6 separate regions of the Homo sapiens genome follow, and all the other regions are reported to be linked to region 3. The links are microRNA targets in miRTarBase. Many come from high-throughput screens and were not tested one by one. Region 3 holds a microRNA gene; each other region holds the end of a gene's coding sequence.

What was found. Region 3 holds the annotated microRNA hsa-miR-30a-5p (UGUAAACAUCCUCGACUGGAAG, at 1,892-1,913, opposite strand). A microRNA usually pairs through its seed, bases 2 to 8, with sites in the 3' UTR of a target mRNA and lowers its output. Matches are read on the target gene's strand: a 7mer-m8 pairs with bases 2 to 8, a 7mer-A1 pairs with bases 2 to 7 and ends in A, and an 8mer does both.
Region 1: miRTarBase lists PRKAR1A as a target of hsa-miR-30a-5p. Seed matches in the 3' UTR shown: 7mer-m8 at 1,278-1,284.
Region 2: miRTarBase lists NXT1 as a target of hsa-miR-30a-5p. The part of its 3' UTR that is shown has no 7-base or 8-base seed match.
Region 4: the mRNA of UTP11 is a reported target of hsa-miR-30a-5p. The part of its 3' UTR that is shown has no 7-base or 8-base seed match.
Region 5: miRTarBase lists TUBB3 as a target of hsa-miR-30a-5p. The part of its 3' UTR that is shown has no 7-base or 8-base seed match.
Region 6: the mRNA of DNAJC2 is a reported target of hsa-miR-30a-5p. The part of its 3' UTR that is shown has no 7-base or 8-base seed match.

The regions. Positions count from the first base shown.
Region 1 is chr17:68,529,612-68,533,700 of GRCh38, reverse strand. It overlaps PRKAR1A (protein kinase cAMP-dependent type I regulatory subunit alpha), which reads right to left. Exons shown (of 11, transcript NM_002734.5): 10 at 3,700-3,781; 11 at 270-3,424. The coding sequence ends at 3,252. Among named protein-coding and RNA genes, the nearest start is that of PRKAR1A, 19 kb to the right of the region's middle.
Region 2 is chr20:23,353,657-23,357,745 of GRCh38, forward strand. NXT1 (nuclear transport factor 2 like export factor 1) reads left to right here. Exons shown (of 2, transcript NM_013248.3): 2 at 325-1,115. The coding sequence starts at 386. The coding sequence ends at 808. LINC01431 (long intergenic non-protein coding RNA 1431) reads right to left here. Exons shown (of 3, transcript NR_109884.1): 2 at 3,395-3,481; 3 at 2,938-3,313. Among named protein-coding and RNA genes, the nearest start is that of LINC01431, 2.4 kb to the right of the region's middle. RefSeq lists an enhancer at 3,897-3,986.
Region 3 is chr6:71,401,704-71,405,792 of GRCh38, forward strand. MIR30A (microRNA 30a) reads right to left here and starts at 1,918; the gene lies at 1,848-1,918. RefSeq lists an enhancer at 386-914.
Region 4 is chr1:38,022,814-38,026,902 of GRCh38, forward strand. It overlaps UTP11 (UTP11 small subunit processome component), which reads left to right. Exons shown (of 8, transcript NM_016037.4): 8 at 732-2,007. The coding sequence ends at 815. Among named protein-coding and RNA genes, the nearest start is that of UTP11, 12 kb to the left of the region's middle. RefSeq lists enhancers at 3,290-3,789, 3,956-4,089.
Region 5 is chr16:89,935,321-89,939,406 of GRCh38, forward strand. It overlaps TUBB3 (tubulin beta 3 class III), which reads left to right. Exons shown (of 4, transcript NM_006086.4): 4 at 1-777. The coding sequence ends at 484. Among named protein-coding and RNA genes, the nearest start is that of DEF8, 11 kb to the right of the region's middle.
Region 6 is chr7:103,308,929-103,313,017 of GRCh38, reverse strand. It overlaps DNAJC2 (DnaJ heat shock protein family (Hsp40) member C2), which reads left to right. Exons shown (of 17, transcript NM_014377.3): 16 at 1-71; 17 at 375-729. The coding sequence ends at 449. PMPCB (peptidase, mitochondrial processing subunit beta) reads right to left here. Exons shown (of 13, transcript NM_004279.3): 8 at 3,923-4,066; 9 at 2,543-2,703; 10 at 1,290-1,375; 11 at 1,122-1,210; 12 at 887-962; 13 at 1-811. The coding sequence ends at 747. Among named protein-coding and RNA genes, the nearest start is that of PMPCB, 14 kb to the right of the region's middle.

The DNA of each region.
Region 1 (4,089 bases), not on the chromosome of region 3:
GGACAAATTAAATGGTTATCTAGCCATTGCTTCTTGATGTTGTCTTAGCCCATCTAAACATACACTGCCAGGGCCTAACATAAGTACAAAAGGTTCAGCTATTATTTGTGGTTAGAGATAAAGTAGTATGAAGAAAACTGACATGCTACTTCAATTTTTAAATGTCAATATTTAAATCATTAAAAAATAAAAGAAACAAAAAAAAGAGTCTACTTGGGCCACTGTTTAGAGAGAATTCAACTATAACCAGGACTGTCAACCCAGAGAAATTTTCTTTAGTTACATTTTATTGTGACTCTAAAGGTTTCATACTCCAGAGGACGGGGGGAAGGGATTACTGAATCTAGAAAAGGTACACATGTTCAAAGCAACACAATTTAAAGAATGCTCTTCTAACATACAACATATCTCCAATTTCACTGGATGTGAAGAAATACCAATACACTAATGAATACAACTTAATCATCTCACTCCTCAGAAATCTAAGAGCATCAGAAATAAGGCTTTATATATGAGGCTTTATATATGCAAAATATAAAAGTATCCCTAAGTAACATTAAATGTATATATTAAATTTAAACCAAAGAGTATGCTAATCTAGAAATGATGTTTCCCCATTAAGTCTGGGAAAGTTCCAAGGCCACAGAACCAATCTGTCTTCAATCAAAAGGAAATCTTTAGCTTTTGACTGAATTTTTTTCTTTCCATGACTAAGTAAATAAATCTGCTACATCTCAATTACCCTTTAAGCAAGATTTTGAGATCCACTCTTTGACAAACTGAAAAGCACTGAAAATAAACATTGCTCTTTCAAAACACCGATCCCATAATTCACTTTCCCCCTTTTCATTTTTGCCCACCCGAGTAGACTTTCGGGGAAGGACAGAGAGAGGAAAGACGGAAAGGAGAAAGGGAAGAAAAACTGATTCATTTAAGAATTTAAATTATTTCATCTCTTTTTATTACTTGACCTACCATTAAGACAATCTATAACAAAAAAAGTATATTAGCACACATGGTATAATCAGACTGGTAATCAGGAAGCAATACAAAACGGTCCTTTGGCCATCTATACTTTCTAGAGCAGTAAATCTCATAAATTCACTTACCAAGCCCAGGAATAATGACTTTTAAAGCCTTGAATATCAACTAAGACAAATTATGCCAATTCTGATTTCTCACATATACTTAGATTACACAAAGATAAAGCTTTAGATGTGATCATTGTTTAATGTAGACTTATCTTTAAAGTTTTTAATTAAAAACTACAGAAGGGAGTAAACAGCAAGCCAAATGATTTAACCAAATGATTTAAGAGTAAAACTCACTCAGAAAGCATTATACGTAACTAAATATACATGAGCATGATTATATACATACATGAAACTGCAATTTTATGGCATTCTAAGTAACTCATTTAAGTACATTTTGGCATTTAAACAAAGATCAAATCAAGCTTTAAGCTTGTAAGAACGTAATTTTCATTTTTAATTTTTTAAATATAAAAAGGTAGCTAAACACAAAGTACAGATCAGAAACCCTCATTTAATATAGATTATTTTGGAAATTAAAAAATTTGTAACAAGGTGGCTTTCTTACCCACCCTAAAATGTAAATAAAACCTCTTCCCCAGATTTATACTTCATACTTGGTAACAACCTAAAAGTTTTTCAAATCTATGAAAAAAATCTACCATGACCAATTTAAATTACCTGGGAAAGGGCAGGAGAAGGGATCAATAACAGAGTCAGTTAGTTGCACACAGATGGAAAAATGCTTGCAGTCACTCCCAAATATAACCCTACATTACCTTATATATAAATCACAATGAAAATAAAAGTGCCTACATTACAGAACTGTGAAATTTTGTTTAAAAAAATAATAAAAATAAACTGTTGGGTATCATTGGAATAATGTAACACATAAGGCTGGAAAATACTGAAATACAGTTAAGACTCAATACACAAGTTTACTTTAAAAAAGAAAAGAAAGAAAAGTTTGCCAGAGAAATAAATGCTAGATAGGAAAGCAGGACTTTCAGCAGGATAGCCTTTCAGACCAATTTGAAGCAACACAGACACATTATACCCTACCATCAACCCACCAGAAATTCTAGCTGAATAAAAAGGAAGGAAAAAAAGACTAAACCAAAGTAAAAAACTTCTTCCAAAATCTCATGCCCCAGTGAATGTCACGGGGAAAATTCCCGACACTGAACTTTGTCCGCCTGGCATTTCTCCCTTTAGCAGCATCACCTCTATTTCTCTGTTAGGACATTTGCTCCATCTGTATCTAGTCACAGCAAATCCAATCTCCTGGAATCAGTTTAATGAGCAGAGGAGATTATACTGGAGTCAGCTGAAGGACATACTTTAACCAAACGCTCTAAATTAACAACCAAGAATGTAGACCTCAAATTCTTATTCTCAATTCAGCATCTGATCAATTATTTGGCACTAGCTGGATAAAGGTCTAATCGGAATTTGTGAGCCGAGGCAGATGTAGTTAAATACTAACCAATATTTGCAATCTATGAGTTAGTTTCAAACTTAAAAGGCAGGTATAGATAGCCATACTCAAAAGTATTTCAGAATTGGAGAAGAAACATTAATAACAAGATATAAATAAAACCAGGCAGATTAGCTTGGCAAACAACAACTCTGGAAAAAAAAAAACTGAACCAATCATATCCCATTGATAATTAGCAAAAATGGGCATTTTTCCACCCTTAAACTAGTTTAATTACAGGCAGATGTCTTTCTACTATACTAAGATTTTCTATATCCATTTTCCCTAATCTTTAGAGTTTAATGAGAAACCATTTATTCTACAAAGAAATACAGCATATATGGCCACAGTCTAAATACGCTTATAACTGGACAATTATGTCACTTAAAAAAAAAATCTTGCACTGTTACATCATTACTCTATGGTAATTCAATAGGTGCTGGGATCTGCCCTCACCAAAAAGCATGGCACTCACTGCCCAGGGTGAATACTAACACTGCACAAAGAGAAGCAGTAACAGCAAAGTCTCCATAGAACTCTTTCTATTTATTTAACTGTGTATGAGCATTTAGTTAATGCTCCAAATTGAAAATGGTGCAATAAAAGCAACTTTCAATATATAAACAGACAGGAAGCTGCGATGCCAGTGGCCACTTGGCGCTGCAAGTAGGGAAAATAAAGCAGTTTGCATGAGTGAAGCATGGATTGGGGAGAGGAGAAAAGGGAGGCACAGGAGGCAGATTTCAGACAGACAGTGACACAAAACTGTTGTACTGCTGGATGTTTCGTTTGAGGATGTCTGAGCATGGGCCAAGAACACGTTCAAATCTAGGTCGGTCCAGCTTAACGCACTTCAAGGGGCCACGAGCAACAACTGTGGCAGCACGAGGACGATTCATCAGTAGTGCAATTTCACCTGGAGAAAGCAAAGATGGGTAACAGGCTAACTTCTATGAAAAACATTTCCTTAAAGCAGTGCACTTCTGAGAAAGAAGACAATAGATATGAGACAATCAGTAATTTCATTAAATGAGTAAAGATCAAAATCTCACACCTTCCCTCTCAGAGCCAAAAAAGACTGCAGTTAGAAAATAAAATTCAGGAGAAGACAAAATTATGGAAGACTACAATATCTCACTGAGAGGTGACTTAAAGAAACCATGTATTTATTGTGAGGGAATTCATACATACCAAAATAATCAGAAGGCCCCAATCTTCCCACTTCAACAAACTCTTCATTTTCTGACCGACGTTGTAGCACAGCAGCTGACCCCTATAATAAAATCACCAAAAAGCTAAACAAACACACACTCTCAAACCCAGGGTGGCACCTTAAACATCCTATGCAATTTTAACTACCTTGCAAATGTGTGCATATGATAAAAAATGACTTTAAAGTTAGTCACCACATGAGCTTCAATTTCTATTTTACCAGCATCTCCTGCTAGCGAGGTTCTTCGTATCAAGCTAAGGTGCTTAAAGGGTGCACACTTGGGTTAGCAAACTGTAGATGAAGGGCTAAATCCAAGCTCACTGTCTCTTTCGCAAATCAAACTTTACTGAAATACCACATACATTCAT
Region 2 (4,089 bases), not on the chromosome of region 3:
GCAGGTTTCGCCCTGAGGTTGGCTGAATCTGTGGATGCAAAACCCTCAGATATGGAGTGCTGACTATAACTAAATGTTTTTAAACTAAACACTTAAGGTATACTATCTCAGTTTGCCACAGTGGTAATCCCATCTTAACAGTGAGCAAACTGAGTCTTAGTAAAATTAGGCATTTTTAGGCATTGGGTACTATTTGAGCCTACAGTCATTGTTCTGCAGTCTGTAACTATTTTGCCAGTAGTAGAAAAGGAGGAATGTTCCATTGTCAGGGCAGAATGAACTTTGGCATTCACGTGGCTTCTCTTCAACCTTACTTCCCTGCAGCCCCTGGTTCCCCAAGGCAGAGGAAATACCCTGGTGGAGCCCTCCTTCCATAGAACCAGAGATGGCATCTGTGGATTTCAAGACCTATGTGGATCAGGCCTGCAGAGCTGCTGAGGAGTTTGTCAATGTCTACTACACCACCATGGATAAGCGGCGGCGTTTGCTGTCCCGCCTGTACATGGGCACAGCCACCCTGGTCTGGAATGGCAATGCTGTTTCAGGACAAGAATCCTTGAGTGAGTTTTTTGAAATGTTGCCTTCCAGCGAGTTCCAAATCAGCGTGGTAGACTGCCAGCCTGTTCATGATGAAGCCACACCAAGCCAGACCACGGTCCTTGTTGTCATCTGTGGATCAGTGAAGTTTGAGGGGAACAAACAACGGGACTTCAACCAGAACTTCATCCTGACCGCCCAGGCCTCACCCAGCAACACAGTGTGGAAGATCGCAAGTGACTGCTTCCGCTTCCAGGACTGGGCCAGCTAGTGGGGGTGGCAGAGGTCTCTTTGCTTCATTCAGCCCTAGCTCTGTAGAGAAATGCAAACCTCGACTCTCAAGGATGTGAGGAACACAAGTTCATTTCTGTTGTTGCGGAGACACTGCAGACTCCACTGTGCCGAGGTTGAACTCTTTTTTGTTGCTCAAGTTCTAGGAGTCCCTTTCCTGAATATATACTTGTTTGTCATAGTTTCCTTTTCAAAGTAGTAAACTTTTCTATTTTTCTACTTGCCCAGTAGAGACTCTGATTCTGGAAATTCTGACAAATAATTTAATAATACACATGTTGCTTCTTTCCCTGTCTGATGTGTTTGACCAGGTTGTGAGGGAGGAGGAGGGCTAAAGGCAGAAAGCATAATAGGAAGCACCCGCACAGGGGTGAGGATCAGGGCTTAGTACCTACCCCAGGCACCAGTGTGCACATAGTTGGCCCACCTGGAGCTGTGATTCACAGCCCCATGCACACTAGAATCCCTTGGGACACTGAAAATTACCTATGCCAAGGCCATACTCCAGACCCAACCATGCTTGAGTGTGTGTGTGTGTGTGTGTGTGTGTGTGTGTGTGTGTGTGTGTGTGTGGTGGTGGGTAGGGGGGTTGGTTTTGTTCCAGGCTGGAGTGCAGTGGCATAATCTTGGCTCACTGCAACCTCCATCTCCCGGGTTCTAACAATTCTCGTGCCTAAGCCTCCTGAGTAGCTGGGATTGCAGGCACATGCCACCACACCCGGCTAATTGTTTGCCTGAATCTTTGAGGATACGGCTGGGCATGGGCAGTTTCTAAAAGCACCCTAGGTGTCTTTTAGGATACATCACCTTAGGATATAGCAGAATCACCTAACAGATGGCTGGGCCCTACCTTAGCACCTTAGCTGAGAATTAAATGATGAGAACAGATGAAATACTAGAGTTAGCTAATTGCTTATAAATGAAGCCACTATATTAAACTCATTGATAAAGAGAAAGTGAATCAGCACTGATTCTGAGAGGAAGAAGCACTGAAACTAGGATGGAGGACATCAGAACCAGAAGCTGCTGTTACTGATCCTAAAGGCCAAACCCAATTGCATTTCTTCAATGTAAAGAATAGAAAACCCTATAGAAGTTGGACCAATAGATGATGTGCCTGCCATGCTGCAGCTTCCCCAGTTAAGTTGTCTTTGGTAAAAGTGTGCTAGGTTTGGGATAGGGTAGTCAAGATACTGCAATGGGAAATTTTGAGAAGGGTAAGAATCCTGATAAGCACAGTGACACAGGTAGCCGTTTCCTCTTGACACCCCTTCCCTTCTCTATTATCTGAAGCCCAGTGTTTTGAGAGATAAGGGACCCACCTTAAATACTTGACTTTCTCATTCAATTTGTAGCTAGGTCTGACATGTGATTAAGTTCTGGCCAATGAAGTAGGACTGAACTTGGGGGAATTTTCCTTCAACAGACCCTTCTTTCTTTCCCACTCTATCCTGCTGCCTGGAAAGGTTATGCTGACCTGACCACGGGCTCTGGCTCAGTCTTGGCCAAGAGAACAGCTCAGCCATACCCTAGACGTAGGATAGTGCTGAGCTAAAAGGAGCCTAGGTCCCATGTGGAAACACCAAAATAGCCCCAGCTCACTCAACCAAAGACTTCTTTTTAAATGAGAAATCCCATCTTAAGCCATTATCAATTTGGGGTGTGTGACACTGACACACAGCAGTAATCCTAAGTGAGGAAAAGGATTTGAATGGGGCAGACTGTATTCACTACAGGGCCCAGAAGACGCGGGGACGGCCCCAACTACTGCCCTTCAGGTCCGGGCCAGACCCGCAATGGGCAGGATGGGTAGGGTACAGGGCGTGCGTCCCCACCTACACTAGCCTGGTTGCAGGCGGCCTCCAAGGGCACAGCGGGAAGCTCCGCCCTTGCCATGCCCCCGCCACCGGGGAAGGCAAGACAAATGTGCGTGGCACCCTCCTCCTTCGGTTCTGGGACACATCTCCACCAAGCGGCCGTTCGGCAGGTAGGGCCAGATGGTCCCGGCTCGTCCCTGCGGGTGGGGTTTCCCACCGGCGGAAAGCGCAAGCCCCTCCCGTTCTGTCCAGCGCGCTGCCCGCTGCCTTAATTATAAGGCAGATGAAGGTGAAAAGTTTACTGGTTTTTATTTTTGCAACTTTTTGTAAATTTTAAATTATTCTAAAAAGTTTAAGAAATGAATTGTGCTGAGGAGTATAATCAGCACGCAGTGCGAGTTCTTATAGTGGCCACGTCCACAAACCCTGTGTTGTGGAAGAACAGAAGGCGTTCTGCTTTCTGTGTTTCACCGTCTCTCCCTCGCTTTAACTTCCAGGTCCCGGAGTAGTGGTGACAGCAAGGTCTGTTGGTTTCTTTGGTTTAGGTTTGATGAAAGGCCACTCCAGTGGGGTAGGAGGTGGGCAGGGAGAACAGGGGCTAGGGTGGGAGGGGCAGGAGTTGGGTCCTGGGGGTGGAGGAGATGACGGGGAGAGTGGCTTGGAGAAATCTGCAAGAAGAGACATTGGAAGGCCGGGGGAGGTGAAATGGACACTGGGTGAAGCTGAGGAGTCCTAGTGAACCATGTTACCTCTGATCCAGATATTCCCAGAACAACAAGAAATCAAGCTTCTGAATGTGGTCTGTTGCAAGCTTGGAAGGTGCACACCTGTTGCTGCTAATTTGGACAATTTGGGGGAAGAGCAGAGATTTAGATGTTGCTTTGGTCGACCTTAAACACCAGCCCTGTCTCCCCTACCACTTTGCCAAATTAGGGCCCCGTCTCTCTAAAGAGCAAACAGAAAACTGCAGAAAGTTGCTTTGTCCTGTAGACAAGAGGCTGGGACTAGGTAAGAGGAGGGAGCCAGGATGCAAAACTTAAGACCAGCCTGGCCAACAAGGCGAAACCCCGTTTCTACTAAAAATAGAAAAATTAGCTGGGCGTGGTGGCAGGCGCCTGTAATCCCAGCTACTCAGGAAGCTGAGGCAGGACAATCGCTTGAACCCAGGAGGCGGAGGTTGTAGTCAGCCAAGATCGCGCCACTGCATTCCAGTCTGGGCGACAGAGCGAGACTCCGTAACAAAAAACAAACAAACAAACAAAAAATCTTAAACATCACCAACGAGCCTTGTGAGAAATGGTTTAACGTTGTGATACCTTGCCCAATTTTAAGGCAGGTAAAGGTGTGTGTTAAAACTCAACTCTTGAACTGAACCCCAGCTGCCCTTTAGGGCATGCTTAATTTGATGTGGACTGTAACCTCTTTTGCAGCATTGTAGAGATTT
Region 3 (4,089 bases):
GCTAATTTTTGTATTTTTAATGGAGACAGGGTTTCACCATGTTGTTCAGATTGATCTCAAACTCCTGACCTCAAGTGATCCACCTGCCTCAGCCTCCTAAAGTGCTGGGATTACAGGCGTAAGCCACCGTGCCTGGACTGTTGATGTTACTTTAAAATAGTAGTTTACATTATTACTGTGGAAATGTGGGGCACAAGACATAAGAAATACTAGGTATTAATTTTGAAACTACCCGGAATGGCTTATGGAGGTTTGTATTTGTTGATTTAAAAATAATTAAAAATGCTGTAATTTTTACAAATTAAAAAGTTCCCATAACTAATTATTTACATGAACAAAATGAACAGATAAAAATGAAAAATGGAAAATTTAGGGGCAGTAAGGTAAGGAAGAGGATATAAAATAACATAGGAAGAGAACCTAAAGAAAGTGAAGGTCAAAGATTTAGGAAAAGTTTAACCATTTCTTCAAACCTATAGTCATTTACCTAGGAAATACGGTCGGGTGACCCCAGAAAAACAGCCGAGTTATTTGCTCCAGGGGTTTTCAGCTTACCAATTAAAATAGACCACATTCTCAGTTCCAGACCCAGGGCCTGGCAGAGGCCTCTCCAAGCCCCTTGCATTTCAGTGGCAGTTGATGAACCTCTCATGGCCCAGCATGACTAATAGAGTTTTGATAGCTTTATGTATGAGGGAAACTTAAAGACATTTCTAACACATATTTCTCTCCATCCCAGGTATTAGAAGAAATGCTACTATTTTAAATAGTGGTATGATCATACTGTTTTAGTATCACTTCTTTATCATCATCATCAATGGGTATTAAACAGGGAAAAGAAACTCTTTTACATTAATGGAAACACTATATATTTATAAAATACTGTGTTTTAGAGGACAAAAGATATCACTTTCATATCTTTTTAAAGTGTCTAGTTTCTATATAAGTGTATCCTTAATATTTCTATTATACACTTAAATATTTCTCTTATACACTTAAATATTTCTATTTAAGTGTATAATATTAAAAATATCCGCCATAAGAAAAATACGCATTTACAAAAAAGGAAAATTAGAAATTATGTCCATCACAGAAATCTTCTACAGGATTCTGAATCTTAAAATTGTCTTCATATATTTAGGATAGAATTTGATGTATTTATTATTTTTAAGAGATATGAGTTATTGCATAAAGCTAAGTTAAAAGTTCAACCAAATGGAAACAGTATCCACAAATTCCTAAAATACTATTCTAATCATCTGAAACAAGAATAGGTTTTTCAAATAATAGAGTTAGTTGAATCAGTATTTGTTTGTTTTAGACACTTTATTAAGCTGAGAGCTGCTACTTTATTACTTAAACACTAAGCCTATAAGGAAATAAAAGGGGTTTAATCCAAGTAATGTGAAAATAACTAACCCTTCATCTTACTTTTTTCCCCCAAATAATTGTGGTTTCATTAATGGATTTTTTTTTTGTGAATGGGTCTAAAAAACACCTATTTTGAAACTGCAGAAAGGGCAGGACAAAACAAATCACTTCATAGATTTTTCTGGGAAATATTGCCCTACTACGCTTTTAAAAAAAATAAAAATACTGTAACACATTTCCTCATTTCTCTTACGAATACTTTCTTTTTGATATTGCAAATTCTATGCATACACAGAGCACCTCCTCAATGCCCTGCTGAAGCCCTCTAAAAATGTACAGACATGGTTTTAAAGTGATTTAATTTATACCATTTTAATTCAGCTTTGTAAAAATGTATCAAAGAGATAGCAAGGTATTCAGTTTTAGTAAACAAGATAATTGCTCCTAAAGTAGCCCCTTGAAGTCCGAGGCAGTAGGCAGCTGCAAACATCCGACTGAAAGCCCATCTGTGGCTTCACAGCTTCCAGTCGAGGATGTTTACAGTCGCTCACTGTCAACAGCAATATACCTTCTTTAGCCTTCTGTTGGGTTAACCTGAAGAAGTAATCCCAGCAAGTGTTTCCAAGATGTGCAGGCAACGATTCTGTAAAGTACTGAAGCCTCATTCAAACAGCAATATTCTAGAAAATGTCTCAAATTCAAAACAAATAAGAAGGCTCATGGATGTCTATTATTCATCACCGAGCTTCTAGTTTCTATAAAATTTTGTGATATACTAAAACAACATATATAAATGGTTTCATTCATTATTGTTAGCCACAAGAAGTAAATAGGCAAGTGGCCAGGTTACTTAATATGATTTCAACATGCATTATGTAATTACAATCCTTTAAGCAAAAGTGACCAAACACAGAAACTAAATTATCTTAACAGCGTAAAGCGTACATTTAACATCAAATACTGCAGTTGAGTGAACTTAGACTACCGTGAAAATATAAAAGGTCTACTTGGAAAGTTATAAACTCTGACAAAAAAAAAAAAGACTTACATGCTGCTTTTATAGATCACTTTTGCTCTAAAGTCTGCTCCCAGAGAGGACTTGTACAGTCAGCTGATTTTTGAAAGAGTAAGCAACAATCAGGAGAAAAACAGAAAAGAATAACGAGGTATAACACAGGCATATATCAGTATGTGGATCAAAGTTTCCCACTGGAAAAACACAGAACCTATCACTCACAACAGTGACGCACATTAACTCCAAATTTGAATGTTTTGAATTCCACTCCCATTCTCTTATGAAAATAAATGAGGAAAACTGAAGGTTAAGCTCTATCAGTCACTACTTTCCTGAAGTAATTCAAAACCATTCTGAATCTAGTGAAAGATTAAGTTGATACAGAAAAGTGGGTGTGCCTTTCCCTGAGATTTGTTTTTAGATGAAGTTACCGTAAGGTTCTTAAATTGTGTAAGTCTTAGTAGTTTGTGATCTCAAACCCGAAACAAAAATAAAATCCACACAAAAAGCATCATGTTTACTGAAACTAACAAATATGAAGAACTCCATAAATTACTTTCTCAAAGCAAAGGGTAACTCTATCCCATTAAGGTTAAAAAAGTTAATCTTTGAGTCAGCAGGTGAAAACAAGCTGAATTATGTTGTGGCCTTTTTCTTTATTAACTAAGGACTTTGAACTATTAAAACTTCCTAGGGAACCAGTTTTCTCAATGGGTCAAGTCACACAGGGGAACAAAGCAAACTTTATCAGTGCTGTGCAATTCTACATTCCAGAAATTCTTAGTACTTGGCATTCATATACCACTGCTGACTAGAGCTTGAGTCAATCCACCAAACTCAGCTATGGCTACCAACCTTGTGAACTTCTCACCAAGATACCCACTTCTTTTAAGTTAGCCACGACTAGACAGGCAGAGTACTCTTTAATTAAAATAGATAAATACCAAGGCTTACACCCTGGGGGGACATTGTATATCAGTGACTCTTTACAAAAAGAAAATATTTTTACCACCATAAATTTTTCTCAAAGTGACAGGTCCCCTACTTGCCTTGGAATCTTACCACTTTTAAATAACTGTAAATTATTAAATAACATGTAAAACAGTGACAAGTAAATACTAAGCAAACAACCTCAAATAACAAATAATTACTTAAATAATTCTATTGCCACCCTCTCACTTTGAGAATTGCTGATCCAAGTGGGACCTATACTACTCAGTAACCAAAAAAACAAGCATGTAGTTTAAGTAATAATGAGTCTCAGTTAAACTGGTAAAATTGTCTGGCATCTGACTGGAATAAATCTGCTTTAGCTTTCACATAGACTTCACCTAGCTCATATCTTGCTAAAAGAGGAGCCCACATACATACAGGCAATAAAGTGCTTTTCCATTTATGAAGTATTATAACTAAGATCTTATGGTCTTTAATTATTTTGTTTAGTGAAAATTTGATGTTTATTCATGAAGTTCTGAGCAAAACGCTGTGTTTTCAAAGTTATGTTAAGGAATTCATTGGATCAGCAATTCTCCAAGTGAGAGGGTGGCAACAGAATGACCAGGACAGCTTCTTCTAACCCCACATACCTGATTGCCTCTGCCACATCCACATTGCAATTCTTATTCAGCTGATGGGGAGGCTGCTGGGTATGTAAATTTTGCAAAAGCTATCAAACAATTTTGCTACACCTTCAGGGCAGAGAA
Region 4 (4,089 bases), not on the chromosome of region 3:
GGAGAGAGAGCCTTAGGCCTCTTTTTTTTTTTTTCCCCCTTTTCTTTCTTGTAAAGGTCTTAACTCAGACTAGATTTCAGCTGTGTGTAAATCAACCCCAGTGAAAATGTCTGCTCCTCAGGGGCAGTGGTTTGAGCCAGTGTCTGTTACTCTGACAGTGTTGAAATGCGCCTTGATTAAGGAGGTAATAAGGGGGTTATTAGTCAGTGCTTTGGAACAGCAAAGGGTAGGATCGGGTAGCATATGAACTTTATAGCTTATGAGCAGCTCCCGTAACATTTAAACAGGTTAACAAAACAGTGCATGTCACTCATTGGTGTTTAAAAATAGACAACATTGTGTAGTTAAATAGCAGAGCTGAGGAATATAAGATGCCTCTTTCATATTCTTATCATTCCTCTAAATGTCAAATTCTTTAGCTTTGTAGATCATTTAGGTCAGCCTTTCTCAACTGGGGTTCCGTGAGAGAATTAAAATTATAATTTTAAATGAAACAACTACTTGAACACCTTTCTTCTCAGTTTTCCTAGGACTGTACACAGCTAGTACTTTCTAGATGCCTAGGGGAGAAGTTAATTCATTGCCTACAGTGGATGCCTTGGGCAGTAGGGCTGTGTCCGTTCTCAACTTTGAGAAGGGCTGAAGCAGGTGCTAATAGGTAGTTTATTAACCTTTCGATTTTACAAAACCATTTCCTTCTCTTTACTGATCACCTTTTTACTCTTTTGTAGGATAAAACTCAGAAAGTGAAGGTGAAGAAAGAAACGGTGAACTCCCCAGCTATTTATAAATTTCAGAGTCGTCGAAAACGTTGACGTGTTATAGATAAGCCTTGTCATTCTGTATCAAAAATCTGTTGTCGTTTTCTAGTAACTTCAAATTCCATTACTCCAAATGGCATGGTTTTCCGGTTTGTAACCATAACTAAATTGTCAGTCTGACATTTAATGTCTTTCTATGGACAACATTAAATCTCCCTCCCTTCTGTAATTGTTTTTGGATTGTGAAATTAGTCTTATTTTTATATACTTAATTTTTTTTTTCTTTGAGATAGGGTCTTTGTTGCCAGGCTGGAAGTGCAGTGTGTGATTATGGCTCACTGCAACTTTGAACTCCTGGGCTCAAGTGATCTTCCTGCATCAGCCTCTTGAGTAGCTGGGACCACAGACATGTGCCACCATGTCTGAGTAATGTTTAAATTTTCTGTAGAGACCAGGTTTTGCCATGTTGGCCAGGCTGGTTTTGAACTCGTGGCCTCAAGCGATCCTCCCACCTTGGCCTCCCAAAGGGCTGGGATTACAGGGATGAGCCACTATGCCCAGCCCATAATTTTTTTTGTTATGAAACATAGGATCTCATTACAGCAGATTTGGAAAGTAGATTAATTCATTCCTAATCCCAGTGCTTATTCAATAATAACAAATATTTATTGCATGCTTAACTGTGCTAGGAGCTAGAGCTGTGGAGGTGGACAATTACTGTGAGTAGTCTAGTTGATTTCCTCCATTTTGTAAAACGAGGCATCACTTTTTGTCCATGTTTTTGTGTTTTATAGTTACAGTAAACAATTTGATGTCCTACTTTTTTTTTTTTTTTTTTTGAGACGGAGTCTCGCTCTGTCGCCCAGGCCGGACTGCGGACTGCAGTGGCGCAATCTCGGCTCACTGCAAGCTCCGCTTCCCGGGTTCACGCCATTCTCCTGCCTCAGCCTCCCGAGTAGCTGGGACTACAGGCGCCCGCCACCGCGCCTGGCTAATTTTTTTTTGTATTTTTTTAGTAGAGACGGGGTTTCACCTTGTTAGCCAGGATGGTCTCGATCTCCTGACCTCATGATCCACCCGCCTCGGCCTCCCAAAGTGCTGGGATTACAGGCGTGAGCCACCGCGCCCGGCCGATGTCCTACTTTTTAATTAAATCATTAGCTCTTTCCCAGTTTGTTACATCACAAAAGTTTTTTACAGTAATATATGCTAGAGTAAACGTTAAAATAAATATTATTTTTAATGATTGCATAGTGTTTTATCTAGTGGATAGACTGATTTTACCCTCACTCATTCTTCTTTTATTGGCTATTCAGGTGGCTTCATAAATTATCCAAGGAGGAATTTTTTTCTCTTACTTAACAGCTGCAGATAGAAACTCTTGGAACAAGGAACCTACGGGAGCACCTCTTCCTTATTGATGAAGCTCAAATCAGTATAGGCCTGGCTGTGTCTCTGTCCTCTGCACTCCATGCCAACTCACAATTCCAAGGCTAGAATAGCTTGGTGCAGACCTTCACTCTGGGAATATGGACCCCTGGGTGTGTTGGCCAGCTTCTTTCTCTTCTCTGGTTCTCTCCTTCCTTTGTTTGCCCATATCAGGATTATAGGCCAAGGACAGTAAGGACAGGACTGAACATGCTTAGAGCAAACATGGGAGAACAGGGAGCGGGGTTCTGGGGGGCTTGCGTAGCCCTTACACCAAGGAGGGAGAACAGCCATGTGTGGATTGTAAGGCTTTAAAAGAAAATTGTTAATGCTTAATAAGTGCCCATGACTGTGAGCTTCCTGTACAAGCCTAGACTAGAAGCCTGTTTCCTCAGGGTGTACCCAGTGGAATTTAAATCAGGGGCCCTGGAAAACAGCAAGAAGGGTCAGGAAACAGAAACCAGTAGGTTTTGCCTTCAGGAAGGAAATGCTTCCCATTGTGTGTATGCACTCCCTTCTGGGGAGGTGCTGAGCTCAGTCAATGCTGAAAGTTTTAGAGACTTGAGGATCAAACCAGGGAAGGGACTCATCATAGTGATACTAGACAGGGGAGTGAGCAGACTAAGCAGCAGTCTGATCCTGGGGTCAAACAGCTGGATGCTGCTGCTCCGTCTCTTGCCCCTGCTGGGTGGGAAAGTGGGGGAGAGGATAGGGAATAGACCTAAATGCCTTCTCACGAACCACACACCCACATGAAGGTAGGCTCGCCTCATGGAATCTCATGTTCACAGATGCACAAGGCACATATAACTCAGGCCTCATAAACAGGTACAGGCATACCTACACACCGTCTGGCACAGGAGCACAAACAGTGACGTTTGAAGAGCCACACTCCCAGGCCAAATGGAGCAGGAAAGTGCATCCTTTTGGTGTACTGTGAGTTCCAGGCTGAAGGTAATCGGAGTGCTGTAAGGGGAGCTGGGTGTTCTGAATTGCTGTTACACTGAGTGCTGTCTCCAAGACTCAAGGATTTTAAGCAAAGAGATTGGCTGTCCCTGTGACTAAGCAAAGACAGGCCCCAGCCCCATGTATTCTGAGAATTGGCCAGGGCTTTGCCGCTTTGGTACTCAGTGGGACCCTAGACTCTTGGCTTGTTGGGGAGGGAAGAGTATTGTTTGCTTAGCCGCCCTTTTTGGCCTAGGGGTGATTTGGGCTGTTGGTGGCATACTGCTCTAGCTGTGCCAAGGGGGCTGTGGGCAGCCTATGGAGCTGGAGGGATTTTCTGAGTCAGGACTTGTTTGGCTCAGGTCTCTTGTACAAACCAAGTCTCCAAACAGCAGTTCTATGGTGATGTGGACCCTTCAGGTCTGTCCAACAGAGAATTCAGTAAGCCTGGCTCAGTCTTAGTCTGTTGCTGCATCCTAGGGCCCTTCCCACCAAAGCAGGAGAGTGTCAAGCCCTAGCTTTATTCTTGAATAAGTTCATCTTTTTCTTTGAGACAGAGTCTTGCTCTGTCACCCAGGCTGGAGTGCAGTGGCGCGATCTTGGTTCACAGCAACCTCCGCCTCCTGGGTTCAAGCGATTCTCTTGCCTCAGCCTCTCTAGTAGCTGGAATTACAGGCGCAGAGACGGGGTTTCGCCATGTTGGCCAGGCTGGTCTCGAACTCCTGATCTCAGGCGATCCACCTCTCCTTGGCTTCTCAAAGTGCTGGGATTACAGGCATGAGCCACTGCTCCTAGCCAATCTTTTTCTGATTTCTAACTGCTTCCTGGTGCCAGGGTGGAAAAGGGCCCAGCAGGTGGAGCTGCTGCCCCTTTGCTGGGATTCCTTCTCAGGGACTTGGTGTCCACCCACCCAGCACACTTGTCTTCTTTCAAAAGTGTCCTTGTACTTAGGAAG
Region 5 (4,086 bases), not on the chromosome of region 3:
CCAGCAGATGTTCGATGCCAAGAACATGATGGCCGCCTGCGACCCGCGCCACGGCCGCTACCTGACGGTGGCCACCGTGTTCCGGGGCCGCATGTCCATGAAGGAGGTGGACGAGCAGATGCTGGCCATCCAGAGCAAGAACAGCAGCTACTTCGTGGAGTGGATCCCCAACAACGTGAAGGTGGCCGTGTGTGACATCCCGCCCCGCGGCCTCAAGATGTCCTCCACCTTCATCGGGAACAGCACGGCCATCCAGGAGCTGTTCAAGCGCATCTCCGAGCAGTTCACGGCCATGTTCCGGCGCAAGGCCTTCCTGCACTGGTACACGGGCGAGGGCATGGACGAGATGGAGTTCACCGAGGCCGAGAGCAACATGAACGACCTGGTGTCCGAGTACCAGCAGTACCAGGACGCCACGGCCGAGGAAGAGGGCGAGATGTACGAAGACGACGAGGAGGAGTCGGAGGCCCAGGGCCCCAAGTGAAGCTGCTCGCAGCTGGAGTGAGAGGCAGGTGGCGGCCGGGGCCGAAGCCAGCAGTGTCTAAACCCCCGGAGCCATCTTGCTGCCGACACCCTGCTTTCCCCTCGCCCTAGGGCTCCCTTGCCGCCCTCCTGCAGTATTTATGGCCTCGTCCTCCCCACCTAGGCCACGTGTGAGCTGCTCCTGTCTCTGTCTTATTGCAGCTCCAGGCCTGACGTTTTACGGTTTTGTTTTTTACTGGTTTGTGTTTATATTTTCGGGGATACTTAATAAATCTATTGCTGTCAGATACCCTTGCTTGGTGCCAGAGATGTCCTTTTATTCTGGAAAGTTGTGTCCAGTAGGTGGAGGGGCTGACAGGGAGGCCCGGGTGGACAGGCAAGAAGAGCTCATCCTCTCCCAGGCTGGCGGCTGAGAGAGGCCTGCGCTGGGGGCCGGAATGTGTCTCAAGGCACAGCCCGTGGGGAGACCCCGGAAACGGGAAGCCCGGGAGAAGGAACGGGAAGTACCTCATTCCAGACCTCAAGATGCAGCCCTCCCGACTTGGAAATAACCCCACACTCGTTCCCTGGCCTCCCACAGAGCGGCTTGCACCCCAGACTTTTCTCCCACCTGTCTGTAGGCTGAAAGTTGGGGCAGGTGGTCCCTCCTGCGGTGGAAACTGCCATCAGACCTGAAGCCTCGGGTCACAACCAGGGAGGTAGGGAAGGGGGCCCCGAGTGCTCCCTGAAAAAGACGGTGTGTTTAGTGTCTCGGGGCTGGGCCCTGGGAGGGGCTGCTGAGGTCAGGGAGATGCGGCCACAGGACGCAGGCCTGGGCTGCCGGGAGGGACGTATCAGTCCTCCCGCCCCCGGCAGCCCCTTCCTGGGGTGCATGATACTTGGTGTCCAGCCACACAGGGCATGGCCTGAGGAGCCGCTCACCTGGTTCCCCACATCCTCCTACAGGGACAGAGCCTGGAGCCCAGAGAGGCCGACTGCCCAGCCCTCCACAGTCGCCTCCCTGCCACCCCGCCCCTTGGAGCTGAGGGGCATCAGCAGCCTCAGTCTCCCAGGTTCTGCCCAGTGGTACCCTGAGAGCGGCCCCTTCTTCTTGAATCACCCTTCAACCTGGCAATGGGCGCAGAAGAAGACAGGCCGTGTGCACTGCGGGCCCCAGCTTCAGATGCGAGGGCTGCAGGCCCCAGAGGCCGCCATCTCGAGTTCTGGCCCTGACACCCCCAACATGGATGGGGCCGGGGATGTGTCTCCTCCGCCGGCTGCTGCTGTGTAACAAATCACCCCAAATCTACCTGAAACAGCACGGGATCCTTTCTCTAGACACAGCGTGTTAGCTGGATCCTTCTGCTCCTCACAATGTTGGGAGGGGCCAGCTGCAAGCTCTGACATCTCACTCTTGGGGTTGTCCTCCGCACGGCTGCCTGGCCGACCCCTCGCATGGTGGGGCGGAGGCTGGAACCACGTCTTACATGGCACCGGTTCTTTTTTTCTTTGTGACAGAGTCTCGCTCTGTCGCCTAGGCTGGAGTGCAGTGGCGCAATCTCAGCTCACTGCAAGCTCCGCCTCCCGGGTTCACGCCATTCTCCTGCCTCAGCCTCCTGAGTAGCAGGGACTACGGGCGCCCGCCACCATGCCCGGCTAATTTTTTGTATTTTTAGTAGAGATGGGGTTTCACCATGTTAGCCAGGATGGTCTCCATCTCCTGACCTCAGGATCCGCCCACCTTGGCCTCCCAAAGTGCTGGGATTACAGGCGTGAGCCACCGTCACTGATTCTTAAGTGTGCCAGACCCATGTCAATCACAGGCCTGGCATCACTGTCCCATATTCAGTGGGTTCAAGCAAGACCAGAGCCAGTGCAGATGCAGGCAGGGAGGGAAAAGCCCTGTGGTGCGGACTCTGGGGTGTGGTTCCTGGGAGGCTGCCTGAACACAGCCTGGCTTGCACCTGCAACTCCACACATGCGGAGCTGAGCTCCTGACCCCCAGCCCTGCTTCTCCACATCCCTCAGGTTGGTGATGCCAACCACGACACCCCAGGTGCTCAGGGCAAACAGCCGGGGTCACCAGGTATAGGGTCCAGCCCCATAGGGTCGGTGGGTCTCTCCCTGTGTGCGGCGATGACAGAGTGTAGAAATAAAGACACAAGACAAAGAGATAAAAGAAAAGGCAGCTGGGCCCGGGGGACCACCACCAGCAAGACGCGGAGACCGGTAGTGGCCCCGAATGTCTGGCTGCGCTGTTATTTACTGGATACAGAGCAAAAGGGGCAGGGTAAAGAGTGTGAGTCATCTCCAATGACAGGTGAGGTCACGTGGGTCACGTGTCCACTGGACAGGGGGCCCTTCCCTGCCTGGCAGCCAAGGCAGAGAGAGAGAGGGAGAGAGAGAGACAGCTTACACCATTATTTCTGCATATCAAGAGACTTTTATACTTTCACTAATTTGCTACTGCTATCTGGAAGGCAGAGCCAGGTGTACAGGATGGAACATGAAGGTGGACTAGGAGCGTGACCACTGAAGCACAGCATCACAGGGAGATGGTAAGGCCTCCGGATAACTAATGATTAATGATATTCATATATAATCATGTCTATGATCTATATCTAGTATAACTCCTGTTGTTTTATATATTTTATTATACTGGAACAGCTCGTGCCCTCGGTCTCTTGCCTCGGCACCTGGATGGCTTGCCGCCCACAACCAGGGGCTTTTCTTCCCCTCAGGTCCACATCTGCTTTGACAGCAAATCTGGCCAGCTGCACCTTCAGAACACGCCCACAGCCCAGCACCCCTCATGTCTGCTGCTGCCTCGGGTCTTCCTCGTCCCGTCCGTGCGATTGTCTCCTCACTGGGCTCCCACAGCTGCCTGGCCGCTCCTCACATGCAATTTGGCATCTGCTCCCGTGCCACGCTGTCCTTCATATCCTCTTGTTATATATGCCCCGTCCACACCACGTCCCTAATGTTCTAGAACATTGGGGCCCGGGGAATGCCCTCCACTTGAGTGTCCTCCCTGCAGATATCCGACGGCATCACCCTAGGGGACCCTTCCTGGCCCCCCGTGCTCTGAACTCTCCTCCCAGAGCTGCTTTCTGTGCAGCACTCAGCACCCACTTCAGGAGACTGTGCCTTCAGGGGAGGGGTCAACAAAGAGGGTCGAATGGCAGGAATGGGCCTAATTAAGGGGTCCTGGAGCACTGAAGGTGAAGGGGTGGGAGGGCTGGACCCTGGTGAGAACTGGAGCTACAGGAGAGGCCACCCCGGCTGAGCTGAGGTCTCTGAAGGGTAAGAACCCCATCAGAGCAGAGGGAGCCCCGGAGCCAACACCCTGACCTCTCTCTCCTCCGTCCCCCGGCCTCCAGGCACCCTGACTTCTCTCTCCTCCGCCCTCCAGCCTCTTGCTGAGCTCAGCTGGAAGTCAGGGGACGTCCAGGTCAGCCTCCAGGCAGAGAGGAGGGCCAGGAGGCGTGAGAGGTGGGTCTGGGGCCAGTGGAAGGTGAGAACCTGGCCCAGGTCTAATGTGTCATTTAGTCCCCAAGTGTCTCCTCCACGGGGTCAGCTCCACAAGGGACTTCTGTGTTGTTCCCGTTGGACCCCTTAACCTAG
Region 6 (4,089 bases), not on the chromosome of region 3:
CTGAAAGATGGGAAAAAATAGCAGAAGCGGTGCCTGGCAGGACAAAGAAGGACTGCATGAAACGATACAAGGTTGCAGACTTAAGCGTTTATAGATTGTTGTATTTTAAATTGTAGCTTGGGTGATATAGCTCATATTTTATGTCTATTAAGTGGTTAATAATATAGTGCTTATTTCAAAACCAGTAGTTATGGGGTCAATATTATGAGGAAGAAATGAGCAACCTTAGAAACTTTCTAGGCCCTGGCAGATAATGAAATCAGTATATTTAGTACTATCTATCTTAGTTGCTTGAATTCTTTACACCAAACACTAGATTAAAATGTCTGTTTTTAAATCGCAACTTCTTAAATCACACCTTTCTCCCTTCCTAGGAACTTGTCGAGATGGTAAAAGCAAAGAAAGCTGCTCAAGAACAAGTGCTGAATGCAAGTAGAGCCAAGAAATGACAATCTTTGTTGTGTGTGCATTTTTATAATAAAACTGAAAATACTGTAAACATTTTCATTCTTAAAATTATACTCATGGTAATAATTTGAAAGTATGCTGCTTCCAACATAATTTCTCAGAGAACAAAGACTGACCATTAATACAAAACAACCTTCAGAGGGGTAGTCTTTTTATCCTTTGAAAGTATGATACAGTATTTAATTCAAATTTCCAAATGTATATACATGTTCATTTTTATTTTTCTCTAGCTCTGTTTTATAAATACATGTGTTCAAACAATCTTGATTAGGAGCATTTTAATCACGAAGCCAACACATGTTACTGCGTATCTGTTTAAAATCTGGTAGTTGCTTAATGGGACCTAAGGATTAAAAAGAAGAGTTAATTAAAAGTACTTGGCCAACTTTTTGCATAGAAGAAAAGAAGCCAGGCTTACCAACAGCAGCAATAGCTGGACTCCTATTATAAATGTATTTGGTACATACTTCTCGAATTGTCTCAGCATTCACAGCCTGAAATATGGAAGACACTGTCATTCAGCTGTTTGTAGTAAAAACAAAGTCTATACCTGGAACTTTTTAAAACTAAAGCAAGATGAAAGATACATATTCTCAGCTTTTGTAACAAGGATCTTTTTACACATGACCCAATAGTAACTCAGGACTACTTACATCAATTCTTGCTTCAAGCTCAGGGATGGGAATCCTTCTATTATAGCATAACATTTGCCTACCAATATCTTCACAAATTGGAGTTGAACCTGTTTAAAGAGAAGGAAAAATTAACTATTGGAATACAGATCAACCATATGAAAACAGAACCTATATCTTTATTTTTACCATCAAGCTGCAACAACATGTTTGTTTTCAGAAGATTTCTGGCTCGTGCAACCTCACTTTCTGTGACACTTGTACAGAGTCGCATCCTAAAAAACGTGGAAAAACAGTAGTAGTTGGAAAATGTTGTATTTCATGAGTTAATGACCTAAGAATGATGATGCCATCTTCTACACAAAACATACAGGTGATTACAATTTAATTCCAATGCTAAGCAAAAGCTAAAATGATTATTTTCCCCAGTATTAATTTCTCAAAAATGATACATAAACATGCCTAATTACACATTAGCAGACAAAGGCTTTATACAAATGGGCTGATCACATTTTCAGAAATGCTATAAGCATCTTGAGACTTCATGAGTCCTCATCTGTTGGAGTCTGATATGCTATGGGTTAAGTCAGTGGGTCATTCATTGGTTTCTGAAAACAATGAGTAGAGTCTAACTTAAATCTAATTTTTAACAATAATTACATCCTAGTTGACTAGATTTAGAAAGATGTAAACCAATTAAGAATAGTGGAGGAAAGGAACCAGAGCTAAATGTTTTCCAAGAAGCTGCGAGCCTTTCTGCCCATCTATCGACTCAATATACTTTGTTTTCTTTTAGCAGTGGCAACTTCAGATTTACTTTCCCTTCAACCAGATTACTTTCAGAGATATTTTCCAAACAACTTCTAGTTGGCTTTTAAACTTTTAGGATCATCTTTCTGAATTAACCTGCTTCTGAAAGATTAAAACTTTCAGCCAGGTGTGGTGGCTCACGCCTGTAATCCCAGCACTTTGGGAGGCTGAGAAGGGTGGATCTCCTGAGGTCAGGAGTTCAGGACTAGCCTGGTCAACATGGTGAAACCCCATCTCTACTAAAAAATACAAAAAATTAGCCAGGCATCGTGGGCATGGTGGTGCGCCTGTAATCCCAGCTATTCGGGAGGCTGAGGTGGGAGAATGGCTTGAACCTGGGAGGCGGAGGCTGCAGTGAGCCGAGATGGCACAACTACACTCCAGCCTGGGCAACAGAGCAAGACCTCATCTCAAAAAAAAAAAAAAAAAAAAATTCTATAGTATAAATCAGCTTCACATCTTGAGACTTAGGAAAAACCAACTGCAACCTTTGAAAACATGGCAACTACTGTTTATCTAGGTCTCTTAATTAAAAGGTAAAATTACCATAAATCACCATAAAGTATAAATAAAAAACTAGTTTAAAACGAATTAAAGGCAAAATTTAAATTACTTAAAGCTATTTTTCTCACCATTCTTTTTGAACAACATGTAGCATGTCTGCAACAGTGGATGATTCACAAACCATATACAGTCCCCATAATCCTGTATCTGTGTAGGAAGTGTTGAAAGACTGAAAGCTATGGCAAAGATTGCCATGACAAGTGAGCTGGGCCAGCTTGCTAGATAAATTCTGCAAGGAAAAAAAAATTCCAAGAGAATTTTAATTATACATGTCCAAAATACAGAAAGAAAAATGGAGTGTGTGGAAAATAGTGAATATCCTTAGAGGCTGTTTCCTAGTTTTATTCAACATCTCAGTAGTAGAGTTAAAATTCAGTATGACTAAGAATTGTGTTTATTATCTCACTTACCCAGTGCACCCCCTGGAGAAATTCATGTTATAAAAGCAATGAGTCCTTATAATTAATGTAGTAGCTATACCTACTTCTAAAACTAGATGGCTATTATCAACCCAATTTCTAGGACTCTTGGCTACATACGCTTAAAGATTCAAAGTTATATTGCATATGAAGCTTAAGATTATTTAGATGAAATGTATTTTGGAGAAATCTATGAGTAAAGACAAATCTATACAATGTGTTTTGAAATAATTCCAACTTACAAAAAAGTTGCAAAAACAGTACAGAGAATTTCATTTATCTAGATTCCCTGTTATTTTACCATGTTTGCTTTATTCTCTTTATACAAGTTTTTTCAACTGAGTTTTAGATGTGATGCTTCTTGCCCCAAATACTTTAGTATGTACTTGTGAAAAACAAGGAAATTAATGTTCTTACATCACCTTGGTATAGTTCCTCAGTATCTGTGGAGAATTGGTTCCCAGATCCCTGTGGATACCAAAATCCACAGATGCTAGAGCCCTCATGTAATATGGTATATGTAATATTTGCATATAAGCACATTCTCCTGTATACTTTAAATCATCTCTAGATAAATACCCAATCCATGTAAATGCTATGTAAATAGTTGTTATACTATATTGTTTAGGAAGTGACCAAAAAAAAAGTCCATACATGTTTAGTACAGATGCAACCATCCATTTGTTCCCCAAAATTTTCCACCTATGGTTGGTTGAATCCACGGATATGGAACCCACAGATATAGAGGGCCTACTGACTATTAAAATTAGGATATTAACATTGACATAGTACTTCTAGCTAATTCTGTCCTTATTCAAATTTTGCCACTAATAAACTTTGTGGCAAAGAAAAAAAGAAACTTTTTCTGGCCCACATGCAATCCAGGATCAGTTTATATTTTTAAGTCAGAATTCACAGTACAAGACTCTATTCTGCCACTTTAAAAAAGGATTCTTACAAAGAACTTATATTTAAGAAAACATGATAATCTTCCATCTGTTATGGAAAATTTCTTTTAAAATCACTTACCATTCCTCCCCCAAAAGAGCGATCCCAGTTGCCAATCAGCGTGTTTGCAACCATGAGACAGATTGTATCTGGATGTGCCCAACCAACAGCTTCAACAGCTATTGCAAGGTGCGCCAAAGGCATCTTGTCATCCCTCACACGAATCTAGTTAAGATAAAGCAGGAGGA